Homo sapiens: one gene and its partners. The protein of the gene in region 3 purifies or fractionates together with the protein of the main gene of each other region. This does not show direct contact. Each region holds a gene or a part of one and is shown on either strand. Other genes may lie near its edges.

The links.
Region 1: the proteins of LMTK3 (region 3) and ACAT1 purify together in Homo sapiens (affinity purification with mass spectrometry; one large-scale study listed by BioGRID and IntAct). This does not show direct contact.
Region 2: the proteins of LMTK3 (region 3) and ECI1 purify together in Homo sapiens (affinity purification with mass spectrometry; one large-scale study listed by BioGRID and IntAct). This does not show direct contact.

Annotation. Positions count from the first base shown.
Region 1 is NC_000011.10:108,120,066-108,123,811, reverse strand, and holds the start of ACAT1 (acetyl-CoA acetyltransferase, mitochondrial isoform b precursor), read right to left. Parts: upstream 2,246-3,746; 5' UTR 2,206-2,245; coding exon 2,134-2,205; intron 2,017-2,133; exon of another isoform or gene 1,886-2,016; intron 1-1,885. UniProt on the Homo sapiens protein: This is one of the enzymes that catalyzes the last step of the mitochondrial beta-oxidation pathway, an aerobic process breaking down fatty acids into acetyl-CoA.
Region 2 is NC_000016.10:2,244,943-2,248,588, reverse strand, and holds part of ECI1 (enoyl-CoA delta isomerase 1, mitochondrial isoform 1 precursor), read left to right. Parts: intron 1-1,602; coding exon 1,603-1,730; intron 1,731-3,646. UniProt on the Homo sapiens protein: Key enzyme of fatty acid beta-oxidation. Able to isomerize both 3-cis (3Z) and 3-trans (3E) double bonds into the 2-trans (2E) form in a range of enoyl-CoA species, with a preference for (3Z)-enoyl-CoAs over (3E)-enoyl-CoAs.
Region 3 is NC_000019.10:48,501,755-48,505,400, forward strand, and holds part of LMTK3 (serine/threonine-protein kinase LMTK3 precursor), read right to left. Parts: intron 1,243-3,646; coding exon 1,155-1,242; intron 828-1,154; coding exon 679-827; intron 1-678.

The DNA of each region.
Region 1 (3,746 bases), on a different chromosome or scaffold from region 3:
GAGCACAATGGCTCACACCTGTAATCCCAGCACTTTGGCAGGCCAGGAGTTCAAGACCAGCCTGGCCAACAGAACCAGACCCCGTGTCTACAAAAACTAAAATTAAAATAGATTTAAAAAAATAATTAAAAAACAAAGAAAAAGGAAATCACTGTATTTTTCAGCTTCAGTGGCAAAGAAATTTAACTGCAGAGAGTTAAGGAGAAATAGATGCAGAATACATGGGAGGTAATGAGTAAAGACCACTCCTTTGACCAGAGAGAGAAAAGTGATTAGAGCTAGAAAGGCAATGTGCTCCAATAAAGTCCATAAAGATTTGTTGACCATAAAAGAGACCTGGTAAGCAAAGGGAAAAGAGCCAATGTAATGAGAGGTCAAATTCCATTCTACAAAATAGCACAGAAAACTGGAAATCCTGTTTATAGTTCAGTAAATGACCATTTAATTCAAGTGTCCAATACAACTGCTTCCTAGAGTTCAGTAATATGAATGTCACATATCATACATTACAGCATGTACAGGCTTATTTTTTTCATGAGGAGTATTTGTGTTTCATTTTAAGATCTTTTTTTTTAAGACGGAGTCTCACTCTGTTGCCCAGGCTGGAGTGCAGTGGCATGATCTCAGCTCACTGCAACCTTCCCCTCCTCCCGGGTTCAAGCGATTCTCCTGCCTCAGCCTCCCAAGTAGCTGGGATTACAGGCGCCTGCCACCACACCCAGCTAATTTTTGTGTGTGTGTGTATTTTTAATAGAGGTGGGGCTTCACCACGTTGGCCAGGCTGGTCTTGAACTCTTGACCTCAAATGATCTACCCACCCCGGCCTCCCAAAGTGCTGGGATTACTGGCATAAGCCACCTCAACCAACCTGATTGTAAGATCTTAATTAAACCATAAATTAAGAAGGTTCTGAACTTTTTTTTTTTACATCTCTAGAGTACCTAGTTCACCTATGTCACCTAGTCAATACTGACTGAAACCCAAGATAACCTAATTACTTTCTTGTGATTTCTTCACTCATCCCATGAGACTAACAAATAGGCTAAAAACTCATCTTCCCTGGAAACCTACGCCTTGTGACTTTTCTATTATCTCAGTCACCCAGGATCAATTTTAGACTCTTTCTTTTCCCTTGGCTTCGCACCCTCACTCCCTAATTGTCAAGTCCTAGACTGGTTCTTTTACAATCTCTTGCAAAGCTCCTACCGCCAGCACCCTTGTGCAAGTAATGTTATTCTACGCCCAGACGTAAGAACTAGAGTGACCTACCATTGCAACAAAAACAAACATATCAACAATCCCTACTTAACTAGGGTCAAGTCCATACTCACAACATAACTGGATCTCCAAGCTTATTGCCCCCATCGACCTAGAAAACTCAAGCTTCACCAACCACACCCTGAAGGTCTCTACCTATTCCTGAGGCTTTGCCTGACAATCTGTGGTGCGTACTCCCTTGCTTACGCATGTGGAGAATAAATTCTTTGAGACTCTGCCCCTGCTGTGTTCCCTAAACACAACGGTCAGAAGAGCGACAGCCCTTGGAACGCCCTCAGTATGTGAGCTTTGCTCATATGTCAAGTATAATTTATTGTATTATCTGAGTAGTCATTTGTTTTCCCTGATAAATTTCAGGCTGCTCCAAAAAACATCTGTTATGATCACATGGTGCCCTCTCCCCTTGTATGCCCAATGATTATCTATTGTATTAAAAAAGAAAAGGAACCTCTCCTGACAATAACGCACACAAATATGTTTTAAAGAAAATCTCGGGAGCAGCTGCACAGGCCTGCAAAGAGACTCTCCCCGATCCCACCGCTCAGGCCGGGCCAGCGCCAATCCTGGCGGTCCTGCCCGCCCAGACACGTGCCCTTGTTTGACACACCAGTAACGCTCATTAAGATGATTACGCCGAGACCTTGGAAGTAGAAACGCGCTGTAAAAATAGGCGAGTCCCTGGGTGTTATCGGAGCACTTAGGCGGTTTTTGGACCAGAACCCGTCGCGTGACTGTCCTGGGGCCTAAGCCGCGCGCCCGGGCCGCGGGAGCCGCAACGGCCGCGGGCTGGAAGCTTCCGAGGCGGGGACTCCTCGCATCCCGGGTCTGAGTGCTGTGGGGACGAACCCCGCTCACCTGCACCAGCCTCCGGAGCAGGGGGCTGCGGCTGCGGGCGCCGCTGCGCAGAAGTGCCGCCAGCACAGCCATGGTCGCAGAGGGCTGAGTATCGGCTCCACAGGCGTAGACTAGCGGCCTCCTCCCCAACCCCGCACCCCTAGCGGCCCGGCGCGGGCACCGCCCATCCCGCTTCCTCCAATAGTCGCCTCTCAGTCGGCGGCGATTGGCCGGCAGCCAAGGGCGGGGCGGAGCCTGGCGCTGGGACACCGCAGCCTGGGCCAGGAAAGGTTGACGAGTGAAGGACGTGGATGGAGACACTGGCGCTGGGGTCAACGAGCACCTGACACGCTGCTGGCTCCCGTGTCCACCAAGTCTAACCTGCCGGGGCCGGTGGTTTATGTGTAATCCGAGATTTTTCGATTTACTGAGCATGTTTCCCTTAGGCCTACCCAGCACAAACTCATGAAAATATTTTAGGATTTTTTTTTTTTTTTTTGAGACAAGGTCTCACTCTGTCACCCAAGCTGGAGTGCAGTGACGTGACCACAGCTCACTGTAATCTCGACCATCAGGGCTCAAGCGATCCTCCCTCCCCAGCCATCCCAGTAGCTGAGACTACAGGCGAAAGCCTCCACAACCAGATAATTTTTGTATTTTTTGTGGAGACGGGGTTTCACCATGTTGGCCAGACTGGTCTTGAACTCCTGGACTCAAGTGAGCCTCCCTCCTCGGCCTCCCAAAGTGCTGGGATTACAGGCGCAGGCGACCACGCCCAGCAAATTGTTGTATTTTTTTTTTTTTGTAGAGACTAGGTCTCCCTATGTTGCCTAGGCTGGTTGCTGACTCCTGGGCTCAAGCAGACGGCCAGACTCAGCCTCTCAAAGTGCTGGGATTACAGGCGTGAGCCATCACACCCAGCCGTGAAAATATTTTGAAGCAATCAAATTCCAGGCTCAGTCCAGATACAAATATGGGTAAAAAGGCCTCAGGTGATTCCAGTCCCCAACCTTCAACCACTCCAGCTGAGACCCCAGACATCATGGAGCAGAGACAAGCCATACCCACCATGCTGTCTGAATTCATGGTCCACAGAAACGAGAGAAAACAAATGGTTGTTATTTTAGGCCATTATGTTTTGGAGTATTTTTTTTTTTTAAGATAGGGTCTCGCTCTTGTCACCCAGTCTGGAGTACAGTGGTGCAATCATATCTCACTGCAGCCTCAAACTCCTGGTCTCAGGGGATCCTCCTGTCTCTGCCTCCCAAGTAGCTAGGGGATCCTCCTGTCTCTGCTTCCCAAGTAGCTACGTAGCTAGGACTACAGGCATGCTCCACCATGCTAATTTTTTTAATTTTTATTTTATATAGAGAAGGGGTCTTGCTATGTTGCCCAGGCTGGTCTCAAACTCCTGGCCTTAAGAGATCTTCTGGCCTTGGCCTCCCAAAGCACAGATATTATAGGCATAAGCCACCTAAATAGGTCTGTTTGGGGGTAATTTTTTTTTTTGAGACAGTCTCGCACTTGTCACCCAGGCGCGATCTTGACTCACTGCAACCTCTGCCTCCTGAGTTCGCCTCAGCCTCACGAGTAGCTGGGATTACAGGCGCACGCTGCCAAGCCTGGCTAATCTT
Region 2 (3,646 bases), on a different chromosome or scaffold from region 3:
TGCAAAAATTAGCCAGGCATGGTGGTGTGTCCTGTAATCCCAGCTTCTCAGGAGGCTGAGGCAGAAGAATGGCTTGAACCCAGGAGGCAGAGGTTGCAGTGAGCCGAGATAGCGCTGCTGCACTCCAGCCTGGGCAACAGAGCGAGGCTCTTGTCTCAAAAAAAAAATAAAGATAGAAAATGGTTAATTTGGCCGGGCATGGTGGCTCACACCTGTAATCCCAGCACTTTGGGAGGCCGAGGCGAGGTGTTCACGAAGTCAAGAGATCGAGACCATCCTGGCCAACCAACATGGTGAAACCCCATCTCTACTAAAAATACAAAAATTAGCTGGGCATAGTGGCGCATACCTGTAGTCCCAGCTACTCAGGAGGCTGAGGCAGGAGAATCGCTTGAACCCGGGAGGTGGACGTTGTAGTGAGCTGAGATCGCGCCACTGCACTCCAGCCTGGGCGACGAGCGAGACTCTGTCTCAGAAAAAAATGATAGAGAGAGAAAGAGAGAATGGTTGATTTAAAAAGCATGCAGTTTATATAGAATAAATAAAATTGTTAATTTATGTTATATCGATCTTACTTCAATGTAAAAAACCAAGGGCTCACTCCTGTAATCTAGCACTTTGGGAGCCTGAGGCAGAAGGACCACTTAAGCTCAGGAGTTCAAGACCAGCCTGGGCAACAAAATAAGACCTCGTCTGTACTAAAAAATAAAAAAGATTAACTGGGTGTGGTGGCGCTTGCCTATAATCCCAGCTACTCAGCAGGCTGAGTTGGGAGGATCGCTGGAGCCCAGGAGGTCAAAGCTGCAGTAACCAGAGATCACACCCCTGCACTCCTAGGTGATAGAGTGAGACCCTGTCTCAAAAATAATAATAATAAAAAAATAACCCCCAGGCCGGGCGCTGTGGCTTACGCCTGTAATCCTGGCACTTTGGGAGGCCGAGGCGAGCGGATCACCTGAGGTTGGGAGTTCAAGACCAGCCTGACCAGCATGGAGAAAACCCCGTCCCTACTAAAAATACAAAATTAGCTGGATGTAGCGGCACGCACCTGTAATCCTAGCTACTCGGGAGGCTGAGGCAGTCGAATCGCTTGAACCCAAGAGGCAGAGGTTGCGGTGAGCCAAGATCGCTCCATTGCACTTGAACCTGGGCAACAAGAGCAAAACTCCGTCTCAAAAAAGTAAATAAAAATAGGACCAGGCGCGGGGGCTCACGCCTGTAATCCCAGCACTTTGGGAGGCCGACGTGGGCAGATCGCGAGGTCAAGAGATCGAGCCCATCCTGGCTAACACGGTGAAACCCTGTCTCTACTTAAAAGAAAAAAATTATCCGGGCGTGGTGGTGGGCACCTGTAGTCCCAGCTACTCAGGAGGCTGAGGCAGGAGAATGGTGTGAACCCGGAAGGCAGAGCTTGCAGTGAGCTGAGATCGCGCCACTGCACTCCAGCCTGGGTGACAGAGCGAGACTCTGTCTCTAAATAAATAAATTAATAAATAAAACCCCCAAAATGCACAGCTATCATGGCTTAGTTGAGGGTGCAGGCTGGTCAGGCTGCTTTTCCAGTGCCAGGTGTGAGCTTTCTCTTCTCATTCTTTAAATTAGGGGTCGCTGTGATGAAATTCAAGAACCCCCCAGTGAACAGCCTGAGCCTGGAGTTTCTGACGGAGCTGGTCATCAGCCTGGAGAAGCTGGAGAATGACAAGAGCTTCCGCGGTGTCATTCTGACCTCGGTAGGTGCTAGTTCAGCTCCCTACCCCAGCCCGAGTTCTTGGCCTGAGTTCTCTGATGTGAGCCCAGGCCTGTTGCACATGGAAGAGGCAGAGCCTGCCAACGTGTGGCACAGGCCAGCCGGCAGCCCCACCACCCTGGACTCCAGGCGCCTTCACGGGAGGCTTCCAGGAGCACCGTCTGGGTGTGCCCCAGCAGGGACCCAAACTGCCATGGGCCTCAAGCAGATCATTCCCAAAGGTGAAGGTGGACCAGTCTCAGAGACAGCCTTCCCAGGAGACAGCTTTCCCAAGAGACGCCCTTCCCGGGAGACAGCCTTCCCAAGAGGCAGCCCTCCTGGGAGACCGCCTTCCTGGGAGACAGCCTTCCCTGCCCGGGCCGTCGTCCAGGCGGACACTGGGGAGAGCTGTGGGCAGCGAGTGAGGGAGAGCCATGCATCTATGGGGTCACCTTGGACCCTAAGCACACCTGGTGGTGGGTTCCTGGAGTGCTCCCCACTAGGATCACTTGGGTGCCCTGAGCCAGTCCTGCGAACAATACCCATGCTCTCTGATCCTCTGTGGGCCAGTCTTCAGGGCGAGTTCTCAAGGGTGAACCTCTTTGGTCTGAGTTCTTGTGCAGGGGACTCTAAATGTTGCCTGAGTGCTGGCGAACGCTAGGCGTGTCATCTGTGGGAACGGTGTCATTACCAACATCGCCGAGGGGCAGTAAGCAGTGTCAGGCCCAGGAGGATGGGACCCTTGAGGAGAAGCGGGCATTGGCTGAGGTGAGGGGAGTGAGGGGTCCTCGGAGGCTGGCGTGGCTTTACAGGGCCTGGCCTAGAACTCCTGACCTCAAGTGATCTGCCCACCTCGGCCTCCCAAAGTGCTGGCCACGTCCAGCCTTATATATTTATTGAGACAGAATCTCCCTCTCTTGCCCAGGCTGGAGTACAGTGACGTGATCTTGGCTTACTACAACCTCCGCCTCCTGGGTTCAAGCGATTCTTGAATCTTGAAAATTTTTAAAATTTTTGGGAGAGACAGTGCCTTTATTGCCCACGTTGGTCTTGAACTCCTGGGCTCAAGCACTCCTCCCACCTCGGCTCCCCAGTGTGCTAGGATTACAGGTGCGAGCCATTGCACCTGGTTAATTTTTTTGCTTAATTTTTACTTTTTTGTACAGGCGGGGTCTTGCTATGTTGCCCAGGCTGGTCTTGAACTCCTGGCCTCAAGCAGTTCTCCAATCTTGGCCTCCCAAAGCTCTGGGATTACAGGCATGAGCCACCACGCCAGGCCTGGGTTTTGAGTAACGGAAGTAGAACGCGTTTTGTAGAAACAAAGGACCGGCCTACCCATTCTGTGCGGCACCAGCTCACACCTGTTTGGGAACAGCGGAGCTGCGTTGCCCACCCGCACCGTTCCTGGCTTTTTCACATCGCCTGAGGATGTGGAGGCCATCCCATCTGTCCCAGCCGCCTCCTCCTCGCACACATTAGGTGGCTGTCGCCCTCCTTCCTGCAGACAGGGCGGGGTAAACATCCACCCAGCTCTGCTTGTGTGAGTCAGGGTGAGCTGGGTTCAGCTGCAGGAACAAGTTCACCCACAGCCTTGGGGGGTCTGGCCCTCGGGAGGAAAACGTGCCGTGTTGTGCAGAGGGGAAGGTACCCTTGTCATTTGCTCAGGGGGCTGTGACCATGCAGGGTCCCCAGGGTGGGTTCTCCACTCCTCCCCGAGCCCGCCTCCCTGGCCGGCAGCCCTGACTGGGAGTCTGAGGCTCCTGTGCTGGCGCCCGCTACTCCAGCCGTGGGAGGGTCCCTTCCACCTGTGCTCACCCCTCGCCCTTCCTTGGTAGCTGCTGAGAAACCCACACATTCCAGATCATTCTCCCACCCTAGCACTTCCTGGTCCACACGGGGGTCCCTGGCTTGCTTGGCCCT
Region 3 (3,646 bases):
GTTCCTCCAAGTCTCCTCTCCTTTTCCTCTGCACTGGCTCCTCCTCTTATTCATCTGACCCTTCTGGCTTCTCCTGCTTCTCTGTTGACTCCTCCCCCTCCTCTCCCAGCCACCTCTCCTCATCACGTGACCCTGCTTCCCCCTCACCTGGCTCCTTCCGTTCCTCTCCTGGACCCTCCTCCTCTCCTGACTCCTCCCCCTCCCCTGCCCCCCTCCCCTGGCTCCTCTTCCCTCTCCTGGCTCCTCCTTCTCTCCTGGACCCTCCCCTATCCTGGCTCCTCCTCCTTCTCTCCTGGCCCCTCCCCTCCCCTGGCTCCTCCTCCCCCTCTCCTGGCTCCTCCTCCCCCTCTCCTGGCTCCTCCCCTTATCCTGGTTCTTCCTCCTCCTCCCCTGACCCCTCCCCCTCCCCTGGTTCCTCCTCCTCCTCTCCTGACCCCTTTTCCTCTCCTGGCCCTTCCCCTCATCACCTGACCCCGCCTCCCTCTCACTTGGTTCCTCTCATTCCCCTCCTGGTCCCGCCTCCTCTCCTGGCCCCTTCTCCTCCATACCCTCCTCGGTTCGTCCCTATTTTGTGTCAGCCAGTCATGGGTCCGCCCCCCCTCTAGCCCCTCCCCTGAGGCCTCACCTCCTTCCCCCTTCCCCTTAGTAGCTCCTCCCGCGGCTCCCCGGCCCGCCCACCTGTGCACGTAGTTGTGGGAATGCAGGTGCGCCAGCCCGCGGGCGATCTCCAGGCCCATCCTCTGCAGCGTCCGCAGGTCTCGAGGGGGTAGCTCAGGGGACAGGCCCTCGGGGGGCCGCTGGGCTCGGAGGTAACGCTTCAGGTCCCCCTGGGAGGGAGGCAAAGAAGGTCAGCACCACCAGCCGCTCAGGTCTCCAGCTAGTCGGCCCGGAGGCTGGAATGGCTTCTGCTGTCACTGGGTAGCCCCTCTGAGCCTTAGTTTCCTCTGCTGCTTGCAGCAGGTAATAACACAGCCCATCTTGCCTGCTTGTTCAGGCCAGCCCCCAGGACAGGCAGCACTCATGAAATGTTAGCGCATGCCACACATCATCTACGATGATGATGATGATGACGACGAAGCCCAGGGGCACCAGGCTTGGCCCCGGCCTTGTCCAGCTGCCCCCTCTGCCCTTCCCCAACCCCCCAAGACCCTCACCAGTTGACAGAACTCCATAATCAGCAGAAACGGCAGCGTCTCCACGCACAGACCCAGGCACTGGAGGACATTGGGGTGCTGCAGGCTCCTGTGGAGTGAGGAGGTGGCTGAGTTGGGAAGGCAGCCCCTTCCTCTTCATCCTGCCCCAACCCCCAGCAGAACCAAACTGCTGCCTCCACCCTTTTTTGTTGTTTTTGTTTGTTTGTTTGTTTTGAGACGGAGTCTCGCTCTGTCGCCCAGGCGGGAGTCCTGCCTCAGCCTCCTGAGTAGCCAGGATTACAGGCATGCGCCACCACGCCTGGCTAATTTTTGTATTTTTAGTAAAGATGGGGTTTCACCATGTTGGCCAGGCTGGTCTCGAACTCCTGACCTCAAGTGATCCACCCTCCTCAGGCTCCCAAAGTGCTGGGATTACAGGCGTGAACCACCGCACCCGGCCCACTCTACCTTTTTGATCTCAGTTTCCTCACCTCGGAGTCTCTCTCCTCGACCACACCCCACTCCTTCCCCAGGTCCCCATCTCTGGATGGCCCTCACTGGCCTGCTCCTGGGGGAGCAGGTCCCCAGGGACCCCTTTACCTCTCCTTCCTCCTTACACCTCACCTCCACCTTCATTCCTGCCCCAGACTCTTCTCAGTCTTCTCCTCCTCGTCCCCACAGCCTCCTCCCAGCCTCCCTGGCTCTAGTCTCTCCCCTTCCCTTTGCCTCACCTGCTTTTCACCACACACAGCCCTCTGTCGATCCCCAGCACCCCAGGATAGAGCGCCGGCTCTTTGATTCCTCCTGCTCCTCCGGCTGGCCCAAGAGTCAGCTTTATCCCATGTGGGTTTTCCCAAACCTGCAGGCCCTTGCTTAGGCCCGGGCCTTTGCACCTACAGTTTTCTCTCTCTCTCTCTCTCTCTTTTTTTTCCTTCCTTGCTTCCTCCCTCCCTTCCTTCCTTCCTTCCTCCCTCCCTCCCTCCCTTCCTTCCTCTTTGAGAGGGAGTTTCATTCTTATCACTCAGGCTGGAGTGCAATGGAGTGATCTCAGCTCACTGCAACCTCCACCTCCCGGGTTCAAGCGATTCTCCTGCCTCAGCCTCCCGAGTAGCTGGGATTACAGATGCCCGACACCAAGCCTGGCTAATTTTTGTATTTTTAGTAGAGACAGGGTTTCACCATGTTGGCCAGGCTGGTCTCAAACTCCAGACCTCCGGTGATACGCCCGCCTCAGCCTCCCAAAGTGCTGGGATTACAGGCGTGAACCACCGCACCCTGCCTGCACCTACGGTTCTCTCTCTGCAGAACGCCCTCCTCTCATCAGAGTTCTCTTGGCCCCTCCGGGCCTCTGCCTCAACATCATCTCCCCGGGAAGCTTTGCTGCCCCCCCAATGCCAGGTTGGATACCCTCCCCTTTACCCTCACGCTGTGGGAAAGAGTCAGACTCGGGGGTTTGAACCCTGACTCCCACTTTCCTAGGTGTGTCATCTCAGGCAAGCCACTTCGCTGCTCCCTGCCTCAGTTTTCCTCATCTGTAAAAATGGGACAGCGATAACAACTTCCTCTGAGGAATTACATGAGATCTGAGAGAAGCTGGTATGTGCTGAGATCCTAGCAATTACTGCTGTTTTAATGGCAACATATTATTTGATTTTATTTTCACCCTGCATTCTTTTTTTTAAGACAGAGTCTTGCTCTTTCGCCCAGTCTGGAGTACAGTGGTGCAATCTCGGCTCACTGCAACCTCCACCTCCCGGGTTCAAGTGATTCTCCTGCCTCAACTCCGAGTAGTTGGGATTATAGGTACACACTACCACACTCGGCTAATTTTTGTATTTTTAGTAGATAATGGGTTTCACCATGTTGGCCAGGCTGCTCTTGAACTCCTGACCTCAAGTGATCCACCCACTTCGGCCTCCCGAAGTGCTGGGATTACAGGCATGAGCCACCGTGCCCAGGCTTCACCCTGCATTCTAAATGTATTTCCAGGGCTGCTCACTCTCCATGAGCTTCTTCCTGTCCTACATCCTTTGTACCTGCTGTTCCTTCTGCCTGGAATGTACTTCCCATGGTGCTTTGCATGGCTGACTTCTCCAAGTCAACCCGGCCTCCCTGATGGTCCTATCCAAGGTGGCCCCTGTCTCTGTCACATACTGCCTCATTTTCTCATGGTATTTGTCATTCTCTGACAGTTTCTCTCTCTCTCTCTCTCTCTCTTTTTTTTTTTTTTTTTTTTTTTTTTATGAGACAGAGTCTTGCTCTGTCGCCCAGGCTGGAGTGCAGTGGTGCAATCTTGGCTCACTGCAACCTCCATCTCCCGGGCTCCAGCAATTCTCCTGCCTCATCCTCCTGAGTAGCTGGGATTACAGGCATGTGCCACCATGCCTGGCTAATTTTTATATTTTTATTAGAGACGGGATTTCACCATGTTGGCCAGGCTGGCCTTGAACTCCTGACCTCAGGTAATCCGCCTGCCTGGGCCTCTCAAAGTACTGAGATTACAGGTGTGAGCC